Regions from separate parts of the Homo sapiens genome. Here all the other regions are linked to region 1. The links come from fine-mapping of genetic effects on gene expression. A gene starts in region 1. Each other region holds a variant in brackets. All regions are shown on one strand. Distances are between the middles of the regions. Region 1 holds the start of CDKN1C (cyclin dependent kinase inhibitor 1C). Region 2 overlaps KCNQ1 (potassium voltage-gated channel subfamily Q member 1). Region 3 overlaps KCNQ1 (potassium voltage-gated channel subfamily Q member 1).

Region 1 (2,747 bases):
GGGGGCCGGGAGAGGGCGCGGGGCGCGGGCCGGCCGGGGTGGGGGCGCCGTCCCCGCCCGCGCCGAGGTCCGCGGCGGGTCAGCTTTGTTTACGTCGCCGCGCAATGTGCTGTGTAAGCATTTCCCCTTGTCCCGCGGCCAAGCCCCCCGGGGCCGCCGCCGCGCTTAACCCCCTCCACGCCGTGCTCACGGCGCCCGGCCGCGCCCGGGGAGGGGCTCCCGCGGCCGGGGGCGAAAACTGCGCTCCCGGGGGGTCGCGGCCGGGATTCAGCCTCCCACCCCGCCCGCGCGAAGCCGCTGGAGGGCACAACAACGGGGCGGGGAGGGGGGTAAGGGCGCAGCCGCGCCCTGAGCGCTGCGGGCCCTTTAATGCCACGGGAGGAGGCGGGAACCCAGCGAGGCCCCCGAGGGCTGGGGGGACCGGCCGGCCGGACAAAGCGGGGCCGGGCCGGGCCGGGGCGGGGCCGTGCGGGGCTCACCGGAGATCAGAGGCCCGGACAGCTTCTTGATCGCCGCGCCGTTGGCGCTGGCGGCCGCGGTGCCGGCCGCGGGACGTCCCGAAATCCCCGAGTGCAGCTGGTCAGCGAGAGGCTCCTGGCCGCGCTGCCCCTGGTTCGCGCCCTGCTCGGCGCTCTCTTGAGGCGCCGCGTCCGGGGCCGGGGCCGGGGCGGGGGCCGGGGCCGGGGCCGGGGCCGGGGCTGGGGCCGGGGCCGCGACTGGAGCCGGGGCCGGAGCCGGAGCCGGAGCCGGGGCCGGGGCCGGGGCCAGGACCGCGACCGCGACCGGAGCCGCGACCGGAGCCGCGACCGGAGCCGGAGCCGGGGCCGGGGCTGGAGCCAGGACCGGGACTGGGGGCGGGGTGGACGCCGGGGCCGGGACCGGGACACTAGGCAGCTGCTCCGGCGCCTCCTCGAGGCCGTCGAGGGACTCAGCGGCCGGCTCGAGGGGCGGGCTGACAGCCACCGCGACCGCGACGGGCCGCGGCGCCAGCAGCAGGCGGCAGCGCCCCACCTGCACCGTCTCGCGGTAGAACGCGGGCACCGAGTCGCTGTCCACTTCGGTCCACTGCAGGCGTCCAGGGCCCCGCAGCGGCATGTCCTGCTGGAAGTCGTAATCCCAGCGGTTCTGGTCCTCGGCGTTCAGCTCGGCCAGGCGGGCCTGCAGCTCGCGGCTCAGCTCCTCGTGGTCCACCGGCCCGAAGAGGCTGCGGCAGGCGCTGGTGCGCACTAGTACTGGGAAGGTCCCACGGGCGACAAGACGCTCCATCGTGGATGTGCTGCGGAGGGACGCGTCGGACATGGCCCGGGGCTGCGCAAACGCGGGCAGCGAGAGAGGAGAGGACAGCGAGAAGAAGGGGAAAGGAGAGGAGGAGAGGGCGGAGGCCGGGCGCAAGGGAGACCCCGCGCCGCCCGACTCTGCGTGTGCGAGGGACGCGGCGGCTACCTGGCTGTCCGGTGGTGGACTCTTCTGCGTCGGGTTCGCCTGTCTCGTCCGGACGGCAGCCGCGCCCCCTCGATGCCTGCTGGCTAGCTCGCTCGCTCAGGCCTGGCCGGCACCCCTCGAGCACAGCGCACTTGGCCTGTGGAACGCCCAGCCCGCCTGCGCCCCCTTTATACGCGCGGGCCCCACCCCCGTGCGCGCGGGCCCGGCCGCGATTAGCATAATGTAGTATTTTCAGTTTCAACAACACCACGGCGATTGGCGGCCGCCCCGCTGCCCCGCCCCGCCGCGGCCCGGCCCCCGCGCACCGCCCATTGGCCGCGCGCACACCCACCGGGGGCGGGGCGGGGCGCGCGGCCGGGGCGCGCGGCTGATTGGCGGCCGCGGGGCGAGCGCGCTGTAGCAGGGGAAGGGGGCGGTGAGCGGGGCGGGGGCGGGAGTTAAAGGGCGCTGCGGGCGGTAACGTGACACCGCGACGCCCGCCCCCTCGCCCCATCCCCCCTGCAACACTCCCCCACCCCCCCGGCTCCCGCCCCCCGCCGGCTCCTTTGTCTGCAGGCGGGGGCCTCAGCCCAGCGCGGCAGGGGCCGGCTCCTGGCGGGTCCGGTGTCCGGCCAGGCCCAACTCGACCCCGGCCCGGTCCGGACCCCGGCGCCCAGCTCCGTCCCGCGCTCGCCCGTGGGCCTCCTGCGCCAGCTGACGAGGCTTGGACCCGCCGCTGCCAGCTCGGCCCTGGCCTGCGCCGGATGGGGTCTTCGGCTGCCCCCGCGCGGCCTGCTGCTGCTGGGCTGGTGTCCCTTCGAGGGCTCCGCGCGCCTGGAGCCCTCACACACCTGCTGGCCCTAAGGCCCTCGAGTCGGGAGGGGGGACAGGGGTCAGCTCCACTCTTTCCCCGAGGGACCATGTGTGGGACACCTTGAGAGACTCCCACCAGCCCCCTGGAGCTGGAGTCTGAAGCCGCTATCTGCGGAGGCCCACCCTGCCCAGTAGATGGAACAGGGGCTGAGCCCATCATGTCACTGTCGGGGGTCCCAGCCCTTCTCAGCCTTGGGCCAGACCACTCCAGCCCCGGGATCTGCCTGTCCAGGCTGGCTGGAAGCTGTTGTACTGGGTAAAAGTGAAAGATCTGCCCGAGGTCATAGGGGAAGGGGCTGTGAAGGACCATGCCCCTCCCCCGCCTGCAGCCCTTCCTGGTACAGACCTCGGTCGTGCGCGCACGCACACACACACACACACACACACGCACGCACACACACGGTGCTTCACCCCAGCCAGGCCAGACCAAAAGAGACCATTATTTCCTGCTG
Region 2 (2,747 bases), 48 kb before region 1:
AAGGGTGGCCTGGGGCTCACAGAGGAAAAGCCTTCCTCATGGAGGCGGCGGGGCAGCGGGCTCAGCCTGCAGTGTCCAGGAGCGACGGGAAGCCTCGTGGGGCTGTTGGGAGACAGCAAGACCTGGGTCAGCAGAGCACCGTGTGGGGTAAGCAGATGACAGGGCAGTGACAGGGTGATCGGGCCCGGTCAGTGGTCCCAGGGGTCGGGGACAGGTGGGAATCGAAGTCATAGGAGGCGGGGCAAAGGCCACGGGGAAAGGGACAGAGCTGCTCCCAAGGACGCACCACCATGGGGTGCCCCGTGGCGTGGCGGGGGTGGGGGTCAGGACCTTTAGCAGAAGGTAAAGATGAGACCAAGAGGCAGATGGGTGGAAGAGTTGAAAGCAGCCAAGTGTCACCAAGGCATTTCTGAGGGAGAGGGACACGACTAGTGGCTCAAATCTTTAGAAATGAGGGGATGGGTCTGGTAGAGCACCCCAGATTCAAGGCGGGTGGCTTGGGGAAAGCAGGGAGAAGGGTCTGGAAACTGCTGCTGAGCAGGAGCCCCCACACCCACAGAGCAGGTGCAGGGAGGCCCATCTGTCCATCCGTCTGTCTGTGGGGAGGCATGGTGACGTTTCAGGCCGGAGGTAGAAGTTTTCACCCAGGAGGTAGAGGGTGAGGCCGGACTGCACTCCAAGGGGAGGAGGTGGGAGAGCACAGCCTGGCTGCTGCCACCAAGCTCCCCAGAAGAGGGGACCCCTCCCCCCGAACACCAGCACATGTAGGCAGAAAGACTTGGCCTGTGGAGCCCTCAGCCTCCACGCCCACCAGCAGGGACTGGGTGGTGATGTCAGCAATCCCCACAGAAAGGAGGGCTGCACAGCCGTCCCAGGAGCCAGCACTGTCCCCGTGATTCTACGTGCAGCCTCCACAAGTGTGTCGCATGGAAACAAGCAGTGGAGAGCCACATGTGTGTCACATCACGCCTCGCCTCACTCGTGCTAAACCTCGCTGACCAGGCAGAACCAGGCACGAGCTGCGTATCAAAGTTGCTGGAAGGAGAAACATCAGATCCCTAAGCTGGTTACCTGGCAGGCAGGGGCCCTAGAGGGAAATGGGGCAGGTGAAATGGAGATGTGTCTTTGAAATGTCTTTATTTGGCGGGAGAACGTCTTCATAGGGTACTTATACCATGAAAAACCCTGTACACAGACTAATTTTGAAGCAAACATGTGAGGCGTTCACAGAAAGGGTTCAGGAAGACAAGCACCCCAGCCGCAGAGAGCCCGTGGGCTGGGGGCACGGGGCATGGCAGCC[C/T]TCTCCTGGGGATGGGCAGGATGGGGCACGTAGGGCGGAGGAAGAGGCTCACATGGTGTGCGTGTTTGGGAGCACCCTGGGCAGCCTCTCGAGTGTCCAGAGAGAGGACACCGTCTTGAGCCAGCAGGGACAGCCAAGAGCGCCCGGGGAGAGGCCTGGGTGGAGACAGAACACAGCAGGCTGTGGGCGTGGCCAATGTTGAGGGACGGAGGTGGCCAGAGGCCTCTCAGTGGTGCCCAGGGAGCTGGGGACGAGGGGCCTCATCCTTCCCCTGAGCCCCTCCCTTCAGGCCCAGGGAGTGGCCTGGGGCCCAGGAGAGCCCGCTCCGCGCTCACAGCCTCCGTTCCCAGACACGCCCGGGCCTGAGCCCCCAGGCTGCACTGTGCCACAGAACAGACTCCCCGGCCCCTCCCTGCTCGAGAGGTGACCAAGGCCCAGGGTCTCCCAGCGAGCAAGAGGCCATTGAACTGTTGTTGGCTGTGCAGTGCCCTGCCCTCGGGGAGGCGGCCTCTAAGAAGCACACACCACCAGCAGGAACCGGGCAGACAGAGGTGGGGGATGGAAAGCAGGGGAAGTGGCCACAGCCAAACCAGGAGGGGGAAGGGAGGGGGCCTCACCAAGGAGACCCTCACCTGGGGCCTGGAGAATGAGAAGGGTCTGGAGGCTAAGGAGAGGGGTGGATGCTCCAGGAGGCAGGGCCAGCCCATGTGAGGGTCCTGAGGTAGGAACCAGAGGAAACCGGCTCTGGGGCGAGAAGGGCGGCGCCCAGGGGGCCACAGGGGCCGGCGGCGAGGGACCCTCAGCCGAGGCTGGTATCTCGAGAACAGCAGGGATGCCTCAAAGGTTCTCGCCCAGCAAGTGGACATTGTGGTGTGGGAGATCAGCAGGTGCCGGTGCTTTCTCTGTCTGCAGGAAGGAGAGGGGGTCATGGGCCCCAGAGGCCTCTGTCTTAGAGAAAAATGGTGGCAACGTGGGACAGACTGAGGAAGCCAGCCCAGAAACGTCCCGTCCCAAATTCAGGAATATTTAGGGTATACCTGCTGCACGCCAAGGGCAGTTTCAGGAAGGGGACCTACTTCTGAGAAGCAAACACCACCAGTAGGGACCAGGCAGACAGAGGTGGGGATGGAAGGAAGCCAGACTGACCTCACGTGGCTCACAGCCACTGGCAGGGTCGGGGGACAGGTGCCAAACTATCCACATGCCCGTCAGGCACCTGGAGGAGTGTGAAACGGCATGCAGAAAGAAGGAAGCAGGCTTGGGGCTGGGGGCCAGGGACCGGCGCGCCGGGAAGCAGGCTGCAGAGTGAGGCCAGGGATGGGGGCTGGGCCAGACCACAGGGTTGTGAGCGGACTCTGGCATTGATCCGGAGCCACTGAGGGTTAGAGCCTATGACTGACAGGGGTCTGACTTCCAGTGGTATGGGGCCACCCTGCTGGGCTGGGGA
Region 3 (2,747 bases), 150 kb before region 1:
TTAGCTTCTTACGGCTGCTGTAATGAATTCCCACAAACTTAGTGGCTTTAAGTGACACGTTTATTATCTAACAGCTCTGGAGGTCAGATGTCCGACATGGGCTACATTCAAGGAGCCAGCAGAGCTGGTTCCCACTGGAAGCTCAAAGGGAGGCCCCACCTCCCTTGGCTTGTGGCCTTTCCCCACGGCCCCCTTGTCTCTGCTTCTGTCCTGCGCTCTTCACAACCTCCCTTCCTCCCTCTTTCTCTTATGGGGAGTGCAGGGGTGATCTGGAGGAGCCGGTCAATAGCAGCGTGGTGGGGTCTGGCAGAGACAGACTGCAGGGGGCCTGGGAGGCCCCAGGAGGCAGGTGGACTTTGTCCCTAGGCATCCAGTGCAGAGGTGAGACCTGTATGGCCACAGAGTCTCCCTATCCAGGCCCCATTACCCTGGGGGAGGCGGATTATGGTATGAACTGCTGCAGGTGGTCCAAGAGGGGCTGCCCCTGGGAGACGCAGGGTTCTTCAGTAATGGTGGTTTCGAAGGGCAGAGGAGGGAAGAATGGAGGGATGGGGGACAGACGCTGGAGCCGTTTTGGTGGCAGGCCTCTGTGGCTGTGGCCAGAAGCAGGGCTGGGCACCAGGCCAGATGGACCAGAGGCTGCCCCCAGCTGAACCAACTACAGAAATGAGAGCCCCGGCCCAGCCTCCTCCCAGCCGCCGCTCTCTGGGAGCCCAGCTTTGCTCATAGAAAAGGAAGGCCCTTGTTGCCCTGCATTGGGAGCAAACACTTCCTTTGGCCTCACAGCTCAACCTTGGACCCAAAGGTCCTCAGGGACCTGGGGGAAAGAGAGGGCAGCCAGGCACCTCTGTTCACGGCAGGGGCTGCGTTGCCCAGCCTGGCAGAGGGAGGCAGCCCCTAGGTACAGTCCCCTGTGCCCACTCGAGGGGGTGCTGAATTCCTCAAGGCCTGAGTCAGACCTGGTGCAGCTTCATAAAGCCAAGGGTGGCAGGCGGAATCCAAGGGGCCTCACCGCCCATGCACCCCACTGTTGCATGGAGAGAACAATGCCCAAATGCCCTCGTCCCACAGTCGGCATGCCAGACCCCTCGGGAATTCAGGCCTTG[G/A]TGAGTCTGGCACATTCCGGCTGTGTGTCAGCGGGAGAGGCCTGGGAAAGGGAGCCAGCACTGCAGGCCGCCCACCACACGCCCACTCGGGCACCGGACACAGGGAAGGCGGACACCCAGGGCGGCCATCTCTCGGGACAGGAGGTGCGGCTCCAGGTTCTCACCCAGGAGAGGGCTTTCCTCCCATGTCAGAGTCCCCTTCGCTGCTTGAGGCAAGCCCTCCGGAACAGACCCATCTTTTGGGGGACCCTGTGGTCATGGAGATCAGGTTCCTAGAATCACCCCCAGCAGCGCACACAGGAGGGCCTGAGGCCCAGAGAAAGGCGCCTGAAGCAAGGGAGGGGAGGGCTGGTCCAGAGTCCCTGTCCCCTCTGCCAGCCACCCAGGAGGCTCCTATGGCCCCATCTCCCAGCTCTTCCGGGTGGAAGACAGTGGTGGGTAACTCACTCAGCTAGAGCGTCTGATCACACCACTGCAGCGGCTGCTCACAGCCTTCACCATCAGGACCACAATTCTGAGGGCCCTTTGGATGAAGCCATCTCACAGAGCTGTCTCCTGCAGAGAGGAGAGGAGAGGGAGGCCGCCTTGCCAGCAGGGGACCAGCGAGGTGTGGCCTGCAAGCCGTGGGCTCCTGTGTTCCTTCCTCCCCCTTCAGAGGAATGGGAGGAAACCAGGCTTGAGTTCCTGATTTTTGCCCTTTAGGGTTTTTAAATTGTGGGAGAGCCAGGAGTGCCTGCGTGGTGGCCTCTGTCGACTCCATTTGCTCTGAAGCGGGGCTGCGGCCAGGCAGTGCCTCTCAGCCTTCTGTTTGGTGGGTGAGGACGATGCTTGGTCTTGCCTCAGGAGCATTGCTGGCACCTCTCATGTGCTCCTGGGCCTCTCCCCAACCCTCACCTTGGCATCCCCCAATATCCAAACAATAGTCCACAAAACAAGCTGCCCCGTGGGCACTGCGAAGACCCTCGGGGCCAGAGCCACTCCCTCAGGGTGCTGAGGCCACCAGCTGGGGCCTCCTCTTTCCACACTATTCCTGACGCCTGGGCTGGGCAGGGGACTCCTGGCTTCGTTTCTTCCCTCGCCTTTGCTGGGCCATCTTTCAGACCTTGCCTGGTACCTTCTCTCCCCGTGCCAAGGCCTGGAGGTGATGTGGATGCAGCCGGGCAGTGAGGAGCGCAGGCGAATGTTACAGCAGGCGCGAGCGAAGGGGCCCGAGGCACCGGTGCTTCCGACGGGGCCCGAGGGCCGTCTGACCTTTCCGGCCACGGGGCAGCAGTTGCGTGAGCAGGAACAATCGCCCCAGTGTGCAAGGCACAAGCGGCCTTTTCTTCCTCACCGGGCCGGCGCACACAGCTCCCAGCCTGGCTTCCCTTGAACAAACATATTTATTGTGGCCGCCACCGAGGCCTCGCCTTGCAGCCGGAGCCTGGGGGCCTCTGTCCCACCCACTGGGGCCCAGGGAGGGGACCCCTGCCCTGGCGGTCTCCCCTGCCCCATGGGCCCCAGCCCCATCTTGCCTGAGGCAGGGGTGGCTCTGGTCCCACCCACCCTCTGGAGGCCCAGAAACTCGAGGCTCCTGCTGGGGGCTGGTGACCACCCACAGGCAGCAAGCCAGCCAGGGTCCTGGGAAGAGGGGGTCTGGGA

Evidence for each region.
Region 2: its variant is fine-mapped to the expression of CDKN1C in whole blood (INTERVAL, PIP above 0.99).
Region 3: its variant is fine-mapped to the expression of CDKN1C in tibial nerve (GTEx, PIP above 0.99).

The regions. Positions count from the first base shown.
Region 1 is chr11:2,884,191-2,886,937 of GRCh38, forward strand. It overlaps CDKN1C (cyclin dependent kinase inhibitor 1C), which reads right to left and starts at 1,585. Exons shown (of 4, transcript NM_001122630.2): 1 at 1,444-1,585; 2 at 480-1,276. The coding sequence starts at 1,266. RefSeq lists enhancers at 575-1,410, 1,411-2,246, 2,247-2,747.
Region 2 is chr11:2,835,765-2,838,511 of GRCh38, forward strand. The region is part of intron 15 of KCNQ1 (potassium voltage-gated channel subfamily Q member 1); the gene reads left to right. Among named protein-coding and RNA genes, the nearest start is that of KCNQ1-AS1, 24 kb to the right of the region's middle. RefSeq lists enhancers at 1-72, 73-939. The variant C/T (reference allele first, on the strand shown) is at 1,301.
Region 3 is chr11:2,730,273-2,733,019 of GRCh38, forward strand. The region is part of intron 11 of KCNQ1 (potassium voltage-gated channel subfamily Q member 1); the gene reads left to right. Among named protein-coding and RNA genes, the nearest start is that of KCNQ1OT1, 32 kb to the left of the region's middle. RefSeq lists an enhancer at 1,476-1,645. The variant G/A (reference allele first, on the strand shown) is at 1,107.